Linked DNA regions of Homo sapiens: regions 2 and 3 are each linked to region 1. The links come from fine-mapping of genetic effects on gene expression. A gene starts in region 1. Each other region holds a variant in brackets. All regions are shown on one strand. Distances are between the middles of the regions.

Region 1 (5,036 bases):
GAGAATCGGGAGCTGAAAGGGAACAAGAGCCCCTACCATGATGAGGTGCCATTTCCCACAGGGGTGAATCCGCAGCCCCCCAAAGGGGATGGAAACGACCCACCTCTCACTGTTGACATGGCCGGAGAGAGGACTGGGAAGGGATGAGAACTGTGCTACTGGCCACAGGGAGGCTGCAGCAGGGTCCTCTCTCAACAGTCAGGGATGAACAGCCTCGGAGAAGAGGCAAATCAATGGTGGTTCTCCACGGAGGAGCTGCGCCACTTGGGTTAAGAAGGGACACAGCCCCCAGCCTCCCTGCACTTACCAGCATGTAAGGCTATTTGAAGGTACCTCTCCTGTACCTACCTACTGACTAGCAAAGCCAAACAAGGCCCAGGCAAGCCCCTTTTCCACACAGGGGACTATGAATCGTTCCACCTCCCCAGAGGCCGGAATGGCAGAGTGACAGCCGCTCAGCGTGACTAGCTCCATCGCTCCCCGAGAACCGACTGATGTCGTGTGTTTTACGTTCGCTTAGCGCAGACGTACTTATTTGTTTCATGCTTACTTACTGGCACAAAGATGTACGGTTTATAGGGATGAAAACTGGAACCACCCATTCTTGCATTATTCAGTATCAGGACAGAATAGAGTTCAAGAGTATTTAACAGGACAAGCATGGGACCCACCGCGTGAGGTGCCGAAGCCTTTCGGTCGGAAGGGCCGAGATCTAGTGACAACATACGAAAACGTGGACCTGAAGTGTTTCCCGAGGCTGTGGACACGCATCACTGACACTGTTTGCCCACCACGCCCTAAGGGGAGCTGCTGAGGTTTGCAGGTGACAGCTGACAACTGCAGAACGCAGCACAGAACGACTATGTCGAAACCTTGCACTGAGAGCCTTGACCAACCCTAGCGTGGCTTCTGGCAGCCCAAGGTCGCGCCCTGGGACCACCCAGCCCCCTCTGAGGTCCAGCCCAGGAAAGCTCAGGGCTGACAAAAGAGGGCAGTTTGCTCAGGACGACACCTGGGAACTCGCCCCGGCCTCTACTTCTCAGAGGGTTTACTAAGAGGGGCTTACAATGGTGCGTCCTTCTCTGTCCCTTCGAGACGTCTGTGTTCTCTGCAACCCAGGGGTGCCTCTCCAGGACCGGAGTCCTCTGAAACGCCACCGTCAGGGAGGACGGCGGGCTGCCAGCCCACCTGGGCGCCAGCAGCACGGACACAGCGGCTCCACGTCCACCGGGTCCGCCGCTCCTTCCCTCCCGTCGGAGGCCACTGAATGCTGGCCGAGGCCTGTTCGTTCCCCCAGGGTCTGGCTGTGCCCATCGCCCTTGCGCTCGGCGGGTCCGGCTTGGAAGGCCCGGCTTGGAAGGCCCCGGGACGGCGCGGCGGGCGGGCAGCTCAGGGGCGTCGGCGCGGGCGAAGGGGCCAGGAGCAGCTACCCGGCGCGGAGACGCAAGGTCAATGGCTCCGGCCCGGGGCGAGTCCGGGGAATGCGGCGCTCGAGAGGAGCCGTGGGACCGGGGCCCGGGCGGACCGCCCTCACTCACCCGGTGTAGAAAGCTCAGGCGGTCCCGTAGCGGCGGCGCGGCAGCCATGATCCAGGTCCCCTCCCGGTCTGCCCCGCTTCCGCCAGGCCCGGGCCCTCCAATCACTGCGCGGGTCTGGGTCCGCCGGCCAATCCCTCACGGTAGGGCGGGCCCTGAGGTTGGCTTCGTAAACAATTGGAGCCTAGGCCAATCCGAAGTCCCAGAGCACAGACAGACTAGGACAAGAGCCAATTGCGGGGGCTCGAGGCCAGGCAAAGCCTGGCCAATTAAGAAGTTCAGGAAAGGTTATGGGCGGAAGCGCCGACCTATCAAGCTGTTTGACACCGGAAGAGGACGGACCTAAGATGGCGGCCTCCAGGGGGCTGGGAATAGCCGCTCATGTCGGCTAACGGAGCGGTGTGGGGCCGCGTGCGAAGCCGCCTCCGCGCCTTCCCCGAGCGGCTGGCCGCCTGCGGGGCCGAGGTGAGGAGCCGCGGGCGGGCCAGTGCTGCGGGGCAGGAGGAGCCGCGCGGGGAGGTGGCTGGGAGGGAGGACGGTGACGGGGTCAGGGGACCCCACGACCCACGCCCGTCCTTTCCGCAGGCCGCGGCGTACGGCAGGTGCGTGCAGGCCTCCACGGCCCCGGGCGGCCGCCTGAGTAAGGACTTCTGCGCGCGGGAGTTCGAGGCCCTGCGGAGCTGCTTCGCCGCTGCGGTAGGTGGGCGCGGGCCCCTTCCCCCCTTCCCAGCCCTTCCCCTCCAAGAGCCAGCGGGCCCCGGCTTTCCTTTGCTTTCCCGTTGGTTCAAGGTTTGAGCGCCTGCCGCGTGCTTTAGACGCCGGCTGACAAAATCACCGAGCCATCGACGAGCCCGCGAAACCTCGGCCGTCCTGGGCTTGTCCCTGCATGTTTGTAAAGCGGGACTGGCACCAACCTCAGAAAGGATGGGAGATGTGTGCAAAAAAGCGCCTTGTAAAACGCGTAAGCTTTCGTGTTAGCACTGCCGCCGGGGGGTGTCATGCCAGGATTGACCCAACACAGGACTCCCGGAAAGTGCCCAGCACCTTCCGGGTCTTCACCTCCCTGGCACTTGCAGCCCCTGTGCACCTGCAGTGGTGGATTCCTTCAGCACGTGTCCTGCGGGGAACCCCCAGCCACCCTCACAACTGGCACGATAGGGCTTCTTGCCCGTGGGGCTTTAAGTCATTCTGAGGCTGGTTCCCTAAGTGTCAGCCGCACCGGGTACCACCTCAGTGTATCTGGGTAGGCCTTGATGCCAGTGCTGACTCTGTTTACTGGGAGCTGTTAATCCGGAGATTTGGACCAGAGAAAGGGTATTTGAACAAGAGTTCCACGGCCTTCATCCCTACCCGGCCCCAGCAGCCTTGGATCCAGGGGTGGACAACTCATCAGAAGTTGCACTTTTTGCTGGGTGTGGTGGCGCGTGCCTGTAATCCTACCGCTTTGGGAGGCTGAGGTGGGTGGATTGCTTAGGCCTAGAAGTTTGAGACCAGCCTGGGCAACATATGGAGACCCCGTCTCTACAAAAAAAAAGAAAAAAAAAATTAGCCAGGCATGGTGGTGTAGTCCCAGTTACTTGGGAGGCTGAGGTGGGAAGATCACTTGAACCTGGGAGGTGGAGGTTGCAGTGAGCCGAGATCACGCTGCTGTACTCCAGCCTAGGCAACAAAGTGAGACTGCATCTCAAAAAAAAAAAAAGGGGGGGGGCTCCTGCTTTCCCTCTATGAGAGCTTGAGACCAAATGTGGCATCTCGTGGGGGCTCAGAGGAGGGGGCAGCAGTGAGTTCTGTGATAGTGTCATGAGGCCCTTGTCCCGTGGACAAGTGACCCAGAGAACCTGCCCATGGGGCCCCAGGCTCCAACCAGTCGAGCCCCCACCATATGCCAGCACCCAAGTTCTCTGTAAGGTATTTGGTAGAACACAACGTGTGGTGTGGTAGCTTGCTTTTGAGGCGTATCTAACTTGGAAGCAAGCCATTCAGACAAAACACTTTATCTTGCAGGCCAAGAAGACGCTGGAGGGAGGCTGTTAGGAGGGACTCTGAGCTTCACACCTGTCTGCTGCCATGGGTGCAGAGCCCTAGTCCTGATGGCCCCTGGTGGCACATATCGAATGCCTAGGGCAGAAAGGAAGTGGGAATGGCGAAGATGTGACATTCCTCGGTGTTAGATCCTGTTTTTTCTTAACAAGTTGAGGCGTGGGTAGAGCAGGAATTGGTTTTCCAGCATTGTGTCCGTAAACCTGAGTTAGAATAAGATGTAACGGAAGCCACGATAAAGACTCGGTCAAATCCTGCAGCCTGGGGCTTACTGTGTGCAGACTGCAACATGTGGGTCTTGGCCTCTCTGAGATGGAATGGGGCCCAGAGCCTTTCCCCCAAAGCTGGCAGGGCTGGGACTTGGGGACACCCTGCCTCAAGGTCCCCGTTTTAAAACACTCTCACTAAGGTATTTAATGTGAATCTGGTGAAGCCTGCAGACCTTGCTGTGGGTATACAGCACACACCAAAGACAAGGACGTCAGCACCACGAGGGGACACTCCATGGGGCAGGGTCCTCGCAGGTGGCTTTCCTGGACACGGGGCAGGGCGGAGGCTCTTCACAAAAGGGCCTGAGTCTCCGAGAGGGGCCTGCGTAGAGCACCAGCAGCCAGTGCCCCTCCTGTGTGGGGTTGGTCGCCCCCTCGGCAGCCCAGGTACTTCACCGATGGCGCCTGCCCTCTCGTTCCCCCTCCCTATCACATCACTTGACCTAAAACTAAGGTGAGAAGGGCCACATCCTGACTCTGCCCGGGCACTTGTTGATGGTGAGACCCCGGAGTCCATGGGGCCTGAGCGCCACCTGCAGGGCGTGGCGGGGACTGCTTTGAGAGCCCCCCTGCTCCGGGGTGCAGAGGCTGCACTTTCCTGGGGCTGCAGCCTGCGCCTGCCCCCAGGCCCGTGCTAGCGGCTGACCCCGTGGGCTGAGGTCTGTTCCTCCATGTTTCCTCCTCCAGATGCTGCCCCAGAATTAACCTGGTTTCCCCTAAGGGTCTGATCTGGGTGGTGGGTCTGCAGGAGCCAGGCCAGAGTGCTGGATTTTGTCCCAAGGGCCAGGATAGTGTCACATCTTGGGAACCACGGAAATCCAGACCAGACTCCTGGGGTCAAGCCACCGCAGTCCATCCCTGTGCATGCCAGACTCAGATGCCCTGCGCTGGCACAAACCACCCGACCCGCCTCCCCAGCGTGCAGGGCCGGCTGCCCCCCACCCCTGCCTTCCTCCTTCTTGTGCCCAGCACTCATCCATGAGCGAGCCTCAGTGTGCAGACGTCCTTTTCTTAGCCCTGTCACGCCCTCTCCGTTCTCTGGCAGCTCATTGGCAGAGCTTCCTGCATCTTCTCCCTCCAAATCCAGCCTCCCATCCCACCCACAGACCTGTCTTGCCAGCACTCCCCCTCGCTGTCCTTCACCCTGTGTGTGAGGTGGTGACAGACCTGCCACTTCCTGTGGCCCAGCGTG
Region 2 (6,459 bases), 65 kb after region 1:
CCTGCTTCAGGAAAGAATGCCTGGGGGAGGTGGGCGGGCTCAGGAACGCCGAGGTGGGCAGAGCTTGGCCCACGGAGCCGCATGGCCCAGGTGCCCTCGACAGCCGAAGCCTGGTTTTTTTGTTTTGGTTTTTGGGTGGTTTTTTGTTTGTTTGTTTGTTTGTTTGTTTTGAGATAGAGTCTCTATCTGTGTGTCCCAGGCTGGAGTGCAATGGCACGATCTCAGCTCACTGCAACCTCTGCCTTCCGGGTTCAAGCAATTCTCCTGCCTCAGCCTCCCGAGTAGCTGGGATCACAGGCACCAGCCACCACACCCGGCTAATTTTGTGGGGTTTTTTAGTAGAGACGGGGTTCACCATGTTGGCCGGGCTGGTCTTGAACTCCTCACCTCAAGTGATCTGCCCACCTTGGCCTCCCAAAGTGCTGGGATTACAGGCATGAGCCACCTCGCCGGCTGGAAGCCTGTTTAACCCTGGTGTCTGCCGTGCAGTTTCTGGGAGGTCCTGTGTAGGGGCCCCAGTGAGGACTGGCCCCCCTCCTGAGCACTGCTTACTGGGCAGTCCTACGCTCTCCCACCTGGGTCTCCAACTTCTAAGCTGGGGGCGTGAGCAAAGGCCAGGACGGCCCCTCGGAATCCAAATTGGGGCCCCAGTGGGCTTGGGGAGCTGGGGGAGCCTCAGGGGGGCCTGGGCTTTCACCACCCCAGCAGGCAGGAGTTAAAAGTTCACCTGGGCTCGGGTGCCGAATTGTCTAGGAACTCTGGTTCCCATCTCCCTTTCTCAGCGGACTCCCCACCTTTAGAATCACCCAGGGTGGTATCCCATGGAGGGAGGGGAGGGCCCTACCTGGTGGCCTCTCGTCCAGCCCACCCTGCCTCCTGGGGGTCTCTTCCCCGTGTTTCTATAACCCCAGAGCCATAAAACTGACAACAGGTCCAGCAAAGAGACTGGATTTTATTTAGATCCATAGCCCTTCTTAACGCCACAGCCGGGGCACAGCCTGCGGCCGGGGTGCCACCATGTCACCTGACACAGAGGAATCCACCAGCGCCCGCCCATGTCTCATGGCCACACGGGGGCCATCTAGGCTCCCACAGAGGGCTGTGTTGGAGGGGCAGCTGAGGCTCCAGGAGGAGGGACAGACTTTGCAGGGGGCTTCAAGCTGTTCCTGACCCTGCCCCGGCCTGGTGCTCTGGGCCGGGCAGGGGTGTGCTCAGAGCCCATCCTTGGCCAGAGCTCCAGAAGCCGCTGCCCCAGGGCTTTTCTCCTCCATCTGACGCATCTGCTCCCCGGCACCAGCCTGGCTCAGACACCCTCCAGCCCGTGTGTGTGTTCCCGTGGTGGCTCCCATGCTAGGCCAAGGCTTGGGTGGGGCTGAGGCCCAGGGTGTGCTGAGCAGGCCGGGCACCCAGGCACTGCCTGTCATGACTGAAGAGGGCCTGGAGGAACCATGGGGGGCCGGTGGAGTCTGTGCGGGGCGGGGATGGGGGTGCCTTTGAGGCTTTCCCGGTAGGTTACCCCTTGCCTCCAGAGGCCTCTCCCTGGAGCCAGGCAGCCAAAAGACCCTTGTTGGAAACACCACCAGCTGCAGCCCCAGCTCCACAGACTGACGGTCCAGTCCCCTGGCGGCCACCACTGGGGTTTGGGGACTGGGGAGACGGCGCAGCTGAGAATCCTGGGAGGCCTGGAGACCGCACCACCGGGCCGTGCATCAGGATGGGGGACACCTGGCAAAGCCCAGCTGTTCTGTGCCAGCCCTGAGAGACCTGCAGCCAGCTGGCCAAGGTAGGGGGTTGAGCCTCCCCTCCCCAGGTGGCTCCGGGACCCAAGGAGAGAGCCCAGGAGGGCCGGCTCCGCCCACCCTCCCCCTTTCCTGGGAGGTGGGGAACAAGAACAAGGGGCTGGGTTGGGCCACCCACATCTGCTCCCCGGCACCAGCCTGGCTCAGACACCCTCCAGCCCGTCGCTCGCTCCAGATGAGGAGGGCCACAGGGTATTTTCCACGAGGAATTTAGAAATAGCTGTCGGCAGAGCCTTGGTAGGCAGGCTCCCTGTACCCAGGACCCTCACACCCACGTCCCAATTGCCCCACCAAGGGGGCCTGTGACTTCCCAAGGGACTTCCCCCCAGGGGGACTCCACGCCCCCCTTCTCTCTCTGCATGCCAGGGTAGAGTTGTGGCCCCCAAAATTCACATGTTGAAGTCCAGGACCTCAGAATGGGACCTTATTGGGAAATAGGATCACTGCTGACTATACTTAGTTACGATGAGGCCGTGTTGTGTGGTGGGCCCTATCCTCGACGACAGTTGCCCCACAGTAGAAAGGGCAGATCCAGACACCAACATGCACACAGGGAGGACCCGTGTGGACATGAGGGCAGAGGTTGGGCGAGGCGGCCGCAGGCCAACAGACGCCAAGGATGATCTCAGCCTGTGGAAGAGGGGGCGGCCCAGGACAGTCCGGGCTCACGGCCTCAGGGAGCCACCCCGATGGGCTCTGGCCTCGGGAACTGCGAGGCAGTTTCTGTTGTGTGAAGCTCCCCAGTCTGTGGACCTTGTTCCTGCAGCTCGGGAAACTCACACCGCACATCCTGGCGCGCAGGCCAGGCCGCCGCCCGGGTTTGAGGCCTTGCTGCTCCCTTGCTGCCCCCAGCCACCCGCACACTCTCACGGAGCCCAGCTCACGACACCCATGTAGTGTGCGACACTTTTGGAGAACCACAGGAATGTCCTTGATTAAAGCGTGCGCAGGGAGAAACGTGGCCTTGTTCCCACAGATGCCCACCAGGGTCCCTCACCTGCTCCCCCTTGGCGCTGGCCTTGGCCCCTTCCAGCCTGCCCCACCAGGCGGCCGCTCTGGTCCAGGGGCCTGGGTTTGGTCCCTTCCTTGGGCACTTGCAGGCGCTCTTCCTGGCCTGTCTGCCCTCTGCCCTCCCCTTTTCCTGGCCTGTCTGCCCTCTGCCGTCCCCTGCGGCATCCCCCAGCCCCAAGGGCGGTGGTCCCATGGCCAGACGGGATTCCTGTTGGGCTCCCGAGCTCTGGAAATGCGGCCGCTGCTCTGCAAATGTGCCTTCTCTGGGCCCTTCCGCCCTTCGAGTCCATCTCCCTCCCTGGCCTCCACGGTAGGTCCAGGTGAGCAGGGTCCCCTGTGGCCCCCACAGTCCCCTTGTGTCACCAGGCACCATCTGTCCCAGCCTAATTGCTGGAGCTGCTGACATCTGGGCCGGCCACAGTGCCTTCGAGGGCCTGGTTGGTCTCTGAGGCACGGCATCCTGCAGCTGAGGGCCTTCCCTGACGGCTGTGCCCTCCACCAGCCAGGGCCCAGGCACA[G/GC]CCCCTGAGGCAGGGTGTACATCCCTGGAGGCTGCGGTTGGGGAGGTGGTGGGATGAGCTGCCCTGTACCATGGCTGCGTGTGGGAAACAGCAGGAGGCCGGGGGAGCAGTGAACGGAGCTGGGCCCGCTTCAGGGATCTCGGCCTAGGGCAGGGGGTAGAATAAGGGAACAGAACCAAATTTGTCAGGGGGTGTGAAAGCTGCAAAGGGCTGGTCGGACAGGGAAAGGGGTTCTGGAGGGGAGGGTTTCTTTGTGTAGTGGGTGGAATGGTGGCCTCCAATATGTGATGTCCAACCAGAATCTCAGAATCTCAGAATTGGAGCAAGGGTCTTTGCAGCTGTCATGGAGAGGTTATCTGGAGATGAGGTCATCCCGGATCATCCCAGGGGGCCCTAAGCCCAACGACCCTCATCCTTATAAGGGATGGAAGAGGAGGAGAAACTCACATGAGATGAAGGCAGAGGCCAGAGTGATGGGGCCACAGGCCGAGGAGCACGGGAACCAGGGGGAGCTGGAAAGGCGGAAGGGCTCTGCCCAGAGCCTCTGGGGGCAGCAGGGCCCTGTGGACACCTTGGTTTCAGGCTCCCGGCCCTGGGAGCTGTAGGAGGACACCTGTGCTGTTGTGAGCCTGCCACCCTGGGGTCCTCCATGTGGCAGCCCAGGACCCCAGTGTTCTTTGTTCAGTGGTTCTGGGGTCTCCGAGGTGCTGGGAAGCACAGGTGTGGGGGACCTCAAGACAGGTGGGGCTTTCCCAAAGGAGCAGAGGAGGCACCTGCAGAGGGGCCCAGAGAGCACACCCGGGTTCAGCAGATGGTGTAGAGGGCGCCCGGGCAGAGGATGCACGGGCAAAGGCCCTGGGTTGTGCAGGGCGTTTATAGACGTGCATGGAGTCGGGGAGAGGAGGGCCGGCCCTGGGGGCCGCCTGGGCAGGGCTCCTGCCCGCAGACCAGACCCAGACCTGGCCAGTCCACTCTGGGAGAGTCAGGGTCGGGGGAGCAGGAGGGGGATCCGCAAGCTAGAAGGGTCTCGGGGCTGGCCAGGCTGAGGCCGCGCAGCCTGTGATGAAGGGGGCCGTGAGGGGCTCTCTTCTCCTGAGAGAATTCTAGAACCAGTGGGTGGCTCAGGCCCTGAGACTGGGCGTACTGGGGTGTGTCCATCTGGGACCCAACATGGCAGCCTCCCAGGCCTCAGGAGCTCTCTGGCCTGTGCCACGTGTCCCCAGTGCCCTGGTGGGCTCTGTCCCTACACAGCAGCTTCTTGGGTAGTAGGTGGGCTGCAAAGGGATATCTGAGTTGGGGGTCAGGGGCTGCAGCGACTTGAGCTCAGCCCAGGTGCATGGTGTGAGGAAGCTGTCCCTCTAGACGGCTCGGGGCCCTGAGCTCAGTGCTCCAGGCCTGCCCCCACGGTCCCTAGAGGGAGGCAGGTGGACAGGACATGCCTGGACAGGACAGAGCCTGGGCTGGCAAACACTTGGAGGGGGCTGGGGCTCCCGCCTGCCTCTCCCCAGCACCGTCTCAGCACAGGTGAGCAGAGAAACCAGACCCTCCCCCTCAGCCTGTTGGAGGGCAGAAGTGAACACCCCTGTCCCCCAAATCCCTGTCATGCTTTTTTGAGCCCCAGGAGGGGACACGGCATTGTCCTGGAGCCACAGCATTGGTCTGACTCTGACTCGCATTCGATGATGGTGGACCCGTGGGCAGGTCACGCTCCTCCCTGGGCCTCAGGAGCCGCCCAGTGCCAGAGCCGGGGGCACAGCATGGCAAATGTCATTCCCAGCCTGCCTGGCTGCCTGGCAGCTCTCGAGAGAAGCCCACAGCCCCGCTCCTGTCTCCCTGCTTCCTTTGAGTGAGGCCCGGCCTGGCCCTCTGCCGTGTTCAGGCCACCAGCACCGGCTGCACAGCCAGCGCCCACCAGAGTTGACTCCTCGGGCCTCTGAGCACCTTCCCACTGCCTGGAGTGGCCGGCTGACCAGCGTCCATGCACTGCCTTCCCCACCCAGAGGCATCTCCCTGTCATTGTTGAGTGCGCAGTTCCCAGCTAGCAATCACCTCCCCATCCTCACGAGCACCGGGCATGGTCCTGTGACTACAACCTGAGCAATATAAGCAGAAGGGCTGGGCCGACTTCATGGCTTGCCAAAAGACCCTCCCCCTCCCCCTCCTCCTTCCCTTTCTCTTCCCCCTTCCCCTTCCCCTTCTCCCCCTTCCCCTTCCACTCCTCTTCCCCTCCCCCTCCCCCTTCCCCTTCCCCTTCCCTTTCTCCTTCCCCTCCCCCTTCACTTTCCCTTTCTCCTTCCCCTTCCCTTCCCCCTTCCGTCCCCCTTCCCCTTCCCCTTCCTCTTCCCCTCCCCCTTCTCTGAATCAGGGTCTCACTCTGTCACCCAGGCTGAGGTACAGTGGTGAGATCATACCTGGGACCACAGGTGCACATGGCTAATTCTTGTATTTTTTGTAGCGACAGGGTTTTGCCATGTTGGCCAGGCTGGTCTCAGACTCCTGGGCTCAAGTGATCCACCAGCCTCGGCTTCCCAAAGTGTTGGGATTACAGGTGTGAGCCTCCATGCCCAGCCCCAGCTGAAAGCTTTTCAGTAGTCTTTTACCTTCCCTCCTTTCTCCTTCCTGCTGCCTGGAATGCAGATGCAATGGCTGGAGCTCCTGCGGTTGCTATGGAACCATCCTTGACTTCTCCCTTTCAGTCACACCCCTCATCCAATCTATCGGGAAATTCTGTTGAGTCCATGTTCAGATATCCACAGCTTGGACCACTTCTCCCCACTTCCTGTGTCTCCACCACGATCCGGGTTATCTCTCTCCGGGATCGTCATGTTCTCCTCACTTCCGTCCTGGCCTCCCCATGGTCTGTTCCCACCCAGCAGCCAGAGGGTGAGACCATGTCAGCCTCTGCTCAAACCCACCCTCAGCCCAGGTCCTCACAGGCACCCTGCAGGATGCGCCCTGCCTCCCCTCGGGCCCTCCCAGCACCCCCTAGCTCACTGCCTGGCAACCCCACTCCTGCTGGTGGGCCTACAAAAGCTCTGTAGCATTTGCTGAGGAACAAATGAAACCTGGACCCCAGGGATGGAGGCCGTGGTGGGGGGGCACCATGGAGAGGGGGAGGCACTGTAGAGGTG
Region 3 (6,459 bases), 36 kb after region 1:
TGAGCCTGACCAGCACAATCAGATCTGGCTGAGCAACTTAAACGGGAACCTGCAGCATGCCAGGAAGGCACGAGGGCTTCTCACCCCAGGCACAGACCGTACATTTTACAACTTCCTTTTGAAATGTGAGTATCGAGTCCTTCCGTTTTCCTTTTTGCTTTTAGAGCAATACCACGAGAGTTTTTTAAGTGCCAGGAAGTATGGAGAGCAAAACACAGGCTGCACAGCGCCGCTCCTGACAAATGCCCCAGGACTCTCCTGGCCCACAGGTTTCAGGGTGCAGGCAGAACCCCCCCAAACACACGCACACATGGCCGTGTTATCTCCAGCAGATGTGCAACAAGCAGTGAGCAATTTCAAAGTCCAGGAAGAAGAAGAGAGAAGGGCACGATGAGGCCCTAATTTCAAGTGCCTGTTTTGGCCCCAGTGTGCAGCCAGGACTCTACTGATCTGCACCGGGATGCCAGGGCCATTCATTCCGGAGGAGGCGGCAGAGCCAAGGACGGATGGCCTCAGACGCCACCTGCCCCAGGACCCCCAGCTGTGGTCTCTAGTACAGGACACAGGAGCCAGACCACCTGGCTCAAATCCTTGCTCTGCCACTCACCAGCCCCACCTGTGTGTCCCTAGGCAAGTGACTTCTCGGTGCCTCAGTTTCCTCATCTGTCAACAGAAGCATCTCCTCATCCAGCCGTGGTAAGGACCAAATAAGTTAACACACAGGACGGACTGGCCGTGATGACTCTCCCTGGGCTAGGAAACAACTGCAGAACTTTCTAGAACTAGTTTTGAAGCATGCCATTTTCAGAATGGACTTTTACATAGGATGGACTGTGGAAGACGGAGCCAGAAGTTCCTATCGGCCTCAGGGCGGTAATTTGTATACAGGCCATGGAGGTGGGGGGTTAGGTCCATCACACAAGAGTCCCGGTCCTAGAACTTTACCTATGACATAGACCCAGAGAAGGGGAGAGGGGACTTTAGCACGAAGACTGTCGTGAGATGGTTAGCCACGAGAGGTCAAGGGTGAAGGAGCAGTGCACCCAGGCCCCCGCAACAGGTGGAGAAGCAAGGAAGCAGAGCCCCTGCAGGCTTGTAGGGACCGTGGAGAAACGCTCACGGCACATGGGCCGAAGACAAGAAAGCAGGTGGCATGGCCGCAGCCGCACCTCCGGGAAAGGAGCAGCCACGGGCGCTGACGGAGGAAACAGCCAGGTCCACCTTGGGATGAAGGGGGTTGCGTAAGCTTTCCTACTTGAGTCACAATACATTTAACGCCATTGTCAATTTTTTAACAAGATAAAAATGGGTCACGTACAGAAATACAGATGCTGCTCAGGTACAAAACATCAAACACTGAAAGTTGGCCTGGCCAGATGCGCGGAGGGACCCCACGGCCATATGACGGGCTCTGGCCTTGCCTCCTCGATCCTGCCTCACCCGTGCCCAGGTGCCTGAACTCCGCAGAAGAGAGGAGCACCAGCACGTGGGGGAGGCACCCAGTCTTTGGTGCTTGGCCTCTGCTGCGAAGCCAGAGGCACGTGGCTGGTGGAAGTCTGCAGGAGGCTGTGGTGACCGCACACCTGGCCACATGGACAGTGAGCCAATGCTATCGTTCCCAAGGCCCAGGGAGACCCACCGCCCCCAATGTGGCTGCTGGACTCTCCCCTGGATTCTCTGAGACCACTCAACCCGCCTTGGCTGAAACAGTTCAAGAGGAACGTGTGCCTCTAGCCACCAGGAGTTCCAGCTGAAGGGACATACCAGGCTCACAGATCTCAGGCTGCGGGACAGAAGATGGATGGGCCACCGGGCAGAGCTCCCAAGGGGAGGCAGGAGGGGAACCTGGACGGGGCAGGGCTCCTCCAGCACTGCAGAGTGGCGTCTGCACCCCCATGCTCGGAGCGCAAGACAGCACAGCGGGCCTTTCATGGTTCACTCTGCCGCAAGGAGAGAACCAGGACAGCCCCACGCTCGGGGCGAAAGACAGCGCAGCGGGCCTTTCATGGTTCACTCTGCCACAAGGAGAGAACCAGGACAGCCCTCTGGTTTCAACTCCTACAGCTGAAAGTTTCTTAGAAAGAACTAAGTAGCTGCCTGGCCTACATGTGTTACAGTGAAAAAACCCAGCCTCACTTTTTATTTTTCTTTCTCTTTTAGACACAGGGTCTCACTTTGTAGCCCAGGCTGGAGTATGGTGGAGCGGTCATGGCCCACTGCAGCCTTGAACTCTTGGTTCAAGTGATCCTCCTGCCTCAGCCTCCCGAGTCACTAGGACTACAGGCATGCGCTGCCATGCGTGGCTAATTTTTGTTAATTTTTTGTAAAGATGGAGTCAAGTGATGTTGCCCAGGCTAGTTTCAAACTCCTGGGCTTAAGCAATCCTCCCACCTCGCCCTCCCAAAGTGCTGGGATTACAGGTGTGAGCCACCATATCCAGCCTATTTTTAAAATGTGTTTAAAGACAGGGTCTTGCTCTGTTGCCCCAGCTGGAGTGTAGTGATGCATTCACACTCAGCCTCAACCTCCTGGACTCACACAACCTCGCCTCAGCCTCCTGAGGAGCTGGGACCACAGGCACCACCAATATGGCCTACATCAAACTCAGCCTCTCTTATGGTTCAAAAATCTGCTATATTGTTAAAATTTTTCAAAGTTACACAAAAGTCAAGAGAACTGTGCAGTGGGCCGGGCGCGGTGGCTCACGCCTGTAATCCCAGCACTTTGGGAGGCCGAGACGGGCGGATCACGAGGTCAGGAGATCGAGACCATCCTGGCTAACACGGTGAAACCCCATCTCTACTAAAAATACAAAAATTAGCCGGGCATGGTGGCGCGCGCCTGTAGTCCCAGCTACACGGGAGGCTGAGGCAGGAGAATGGCGTGAACCCGGGAGGCGGAGCTTGCAGTGAGTCGAGATCGCGCCACTGCACTCCAGCCTGGGCGACAGAGCGAAACTCCGTCTCAAAAAAAAAGAGAACTGTGCAGTGAACGCCATGTGCCCATCTCCAGACTCTGGCCATTATCAGCTCCTGCCCATCAATCTGGTTCCTCTAGGCTCCCCCAACTTCCGCCCTCCCGGGACTCCTCTGACGCAAATCCCCACTTTCCTGCTATATCTCTGGTTCGGGACAGCTGGGGGCTTATGGGAAGCGAGCCTGACCTGTGCTATTACGATCCGGAGAGTGCCCCGAGGGTCTTACCTGCTGCTCACACAGCAGCGTGCTCAGGGCCTGCCTGCATGGCAGGATCATCATGGGGAAGCCCACAGCCACTGACATCATGAAGCCCACACGGAGCATCTCCGTCACCAGGTTGGAGGGAAAGTGCATGAGCACGTTGCCGGCCGTGGCCTCGGTGAAGCTGACGTAGCCGAAAAACCCCACCTGTTGGAGAATAAGAAATGGCAACGTGGCAGACAGACATCCTAGCCGAGTGGCACCTGTCACAGTGGGCAGGGCATGGGGGGGACCTGTGCCCTGCCCCCCAGAATGGCCTTCAATCCACTTCATAATGAAGCTTCTGCAAGAGATGGCCTTCCAGGGGCAAGG[C/T]ACCATTTCGCCTCCTCCTTCTAAAAATCTCTAGTTTCTGTAAGAACATGCCCATTTCTTTCTTTTTCTTTCTTTTTTTTTTTTTTTGAGACGGGGTCTCCCTCTGTAGACCAGGCTGGAGTGCAGTGGTGCGATCTTGGCCTCGGCGTACCTCTGCCTCCCCGGTCCTGGTTCAAGCAATTCTCCTGCCTCAGCCTCCCGAGTAGCCGGGTTTACATGCACGTGCCACCATGCCCAGCTAATTTTTGTATTTTTAGTAGAGACAGGGTTTCACCATGTTGGCCAGGCTGGTCTTGAACTCCTGACCTCATGATCTGCCCACCTCGGTCTCCCAAAGTGCTGGGATTACAGGTGTGAGCAACGGCGCCCGGCCGGAACATGCCCATTTCTACAGAGAATTAACAGAGGTCTTGGAGAGAGAGTAAGAGTGGCTCGGATAAAGGGTTCTGGGAGCAGCCCTGGTGCCCAGCTCCTCAGGTCAGGAGAGCTTCCTGGCCCAGGGTGGACCCAGGCTCACAGGGCTGGTCCTGGAATGATGGAAGCTGATGGAGCTGCCCCAGGTCCCCGCGCAGCCTCCAGACACTGGGATGGGAACAGAGAGAAAAACCCAGCAGCACACAGGGCCAGGGCCATGCCTGTGGCAGTCCCACGGGGCACCACGGCACATCATGCTGGCATGACACAGGGGCGGAGAGGGCGTGGCAAGGCTCTTACCATGACGTAGAAGGTGGTGACCACATTAAGGGAGGAAGCAAATATGGAGCTCATGGTTTTCACTGACGGCTCATCCAGGCTGTCGTAGGTGGGCAGCACCTGGCTGTATAGAAACAGGCCATTTCACAGCGGACCTGAGAGAGGCACGCCCTCCCCAGCGGCTCCACTTCTAGGACCTCTCTGCAGCCCAGTGAGAGTCTCTGACCTTCCTTCATGCAACATTCTCTGCACACTGGAAGTCCCAGCGCTGAGGCCAGGACTTGGTGTTGCTGAGGACAGGAGCGTTGCAGCAGCCCCCACTCAGGACACCCCCCAGAGCGTGCACCATGCGAACATTCCCCAAGGCTACAGAACGACAGGCTGCTGCTCCACGCCAGGGAGCGGGTGCTGAGAGTCAAAGCAGCCAGTTTACAGGGCAAGCAGCCGGAGGAGGCTGCTCAGAGAATCGCTGTCAAGAGGAGGGAAAGTTAAACAAACACACCCTGGCCTGGGCGGCCGGCCCATCTCGGCGCCTCCATCTCGGCGCCTCCGCACAGGCATGATCAGAGTCGGCACAGACAAGGAGGCGGCCTGGGGCGCGATTCCCCACTGCAGCCTCTCACTTGTGTGATGAGAAAACTGGCTTCGGTCCCACAGCCTGGTGCCAGGAGTGTGGTGCTGCTAGGGGTGGGAGGGACCCAAGCCACCAGCCAGGCAAGGACATGACAGCCCTGCACAGGCAGCAGACGCATCCGAGGGACCTGCACAGGGACCTGGGCCTCTGGAAAGGGGTGGGCGAGACGACAAGGGAGAGGCTGGGGCCATGGAGCATCTGTGTGCAGCCGGGGAGAAGGGAGTTGGGCCAGGCACACGCCAGAGCACAGGTGAGAGCTGCTCTGCCATGGGGCTGAACGAGGACTCTGGAGTGGGAGTCCAGGGGGGTGCTCCTAGGGTGTCCAGGTGGCCATGGCCATGGCTGTCCCAGGGCAGGGGCTCAAGGGCACAAAGGAAGCTAGGTGGGCCGGGGGAGGGCGGGATGCAGAAAGCCAGCAGCCAGTAAATGGACCAGCACAGCGGCCAGCGGAGCCAAATCCCAAACCGCCTTGAAGAAAGTGAAAGAAAACACAGGACATCACCAGCACAGCGGCCAGCGGAGCCAAATCCCAAACCGCCTTGAAGAAAGTGAAAGAAAACACAGGACATCCTGACTTTATTAAAAAGCAAACCAGGCCAGGCACAGCGGCTGACACCCAAATACCAGCACTTTGGGAGGCCGAGGCAGGAGGATCACTGGAGCCCGGGAGGTCGAGGCTACAGTGAGCTGTGATCGCATCACTGCACTCCAGCTTGGGTGACACAGCAGGACCCCATCTCCAAAAAAAAGAAAACCCAGCAGACTGACAAGTGAGAAGGTCCTGCCAGCAGCTGCTGGTGTCCCGTTGCCCAGGTCCTAGCACACCATCCCATCAGGCCGCCCTCAGCATGGAGTGCCATCAGCAGCAGTCAGGGGACCCCGCAGGACATGAGCCTTCCCCTCGGCCCAGGCTAGAAGGGAGCTAAGTGGCCAACGCCTGTGCACACAGCCCCAGGAGGCTGGCAGAGAATCAGGAGAAACACCCAAGAGGTCTCCACGGCCCTAGACCCACAGCTACAGAAGAAGGCCATGTTGCGGCATGAACTTCCCAGTGCTAAACTGTCCTCTCGCCACAGCTGAGTCCACACCAGGGAGTCTTGGCTTGAGGGGACCAGCGTTGGTGCCCCATGACACGTGCTTACCCCCAGCCCCCAATACACCCTGTGGGGAGTGACCCCCAAGGAAGCCACGGACACTGTGGGAAGGGGTGTCCCACGCACACGGGGTGGCCAGGGTGGAAGGCCAAGCCCCAGGCTCCTCTCCAATCCTGACCACCTACCCCAGGGACCCCCGGGATCATCCCTGGAAAGAAACAAGGTAGGAGCCACAAAACCTCCTGGCCACCTGCAAAGGAGCTCCACAGATGGGGGACATGCTGAGCGCTGGCCCATGGCCCCAGACGGAGCATCCCTGGCCCGCCCACCTTGCAAGGCAGCCTCTGAGCCTCAGGGCCTACCAGAGTCAAATGGAGCCATCCACATGCAGCTCTTGGGTGTGTGCCCCTCTGCCCTACTGTGAGGATGGGGACCCTGGTCTCCAGATAGACCCTGACCTCCAGGGCCTCCTGGGCTCAGTGCTGCC

Which allele goes with the higher level. Alleles are on the strand shown, and positions count from the first base shown. SD is a standard deviation of normalised expression in the study named. Not every link is listed here.
With allele GC in place of G in region 2, the expression in prefrontal cortex of the gene that starts at base 1,871 in region 1 is higher (moderate effect, 0.44 SD a copy in GTEx).

Evidence for each region. PIP is the estimated chance that this variant, and not a neighbour inherited with it, causes the effect.
Region 2: its variant is the best candidate, but not a certain one, in a credible set for the expression of NDUFAF8 in prefrontal cortex (GTEx, PIP 0.56).
Region 3: its variant is the best candidate, but not a certain one, in a credible set for the expression of NDUFAF8 in whole blood (INTERVAL, PIP 0.70).

Annotation. Positions count from the first base shown.
Region 1 is chr17:81,237,448-81,242,483 of GRCh38, forward strand. It overlaps NDUFAF8 (NADH:ubiquinone oxidoreductase complex assembly factor 8), which reads left to right and starts at 1,871. Exons shown (of 3, transcript NM_001086521.2): 1 at 1,871-2,000; 2 at 2,121-2,231; 3 at 3,540-3,863. The coding sequence starts at 1,917. The coding sequence ends at 3,569. It overlaps TEPSIN (TEPSIN adaptor related protein complex 4 accessory protein), which reads right to left and starts at 1,608. Exons shown (of 13, transcript NM_001363764.2): 1 at 1,539-1,608; 2 at 1-12. The coding sequence starts at 1,586. RefSeq lists enhancers at 932-1,514, 1,758-1,977, 2,358-2,437 and silencers at 1,298-1,387, 1,490-1,705, 1,948-2,097, 4,982-5,036.
Region 2 is chr17:81,301,891-81,308,349 of GRCh38, forward strand. It overlaps LINC00482 (long intergenic non-protein coding RNA 482), which reads right to left. Exons shown (of 4, transcript NR_038080.1): 2 at 5,740-5,954; 3 at 3,776-3,927; 4 at 934-3,472. Among named protein-coding and RNA genes, the nearest start is that of LINC00482, 4.1 kb to the right of the region's middle. RefSeq lists a cis regulatory region at 549-747. The variant G/GC (reference allele first, on the strand shown) is at 3,329.
Region 3 is chr17:81,272,766-81,279,224 of GRCh38, forward strand. It overlaps SLC38A10 (solute carrier family 38 member 10), which reads right to left. Exons shown (of 16, transcript NM_001037984.3): 7 at 4,266-4,368; 8 at 3,204-3,386. Among named protein-coding and RNA genes, the nearest start is that of SLC38A10, 19 kb to the right of the region's middle. The variant C/T (reference allele first, on the strand shown) is at 3,552.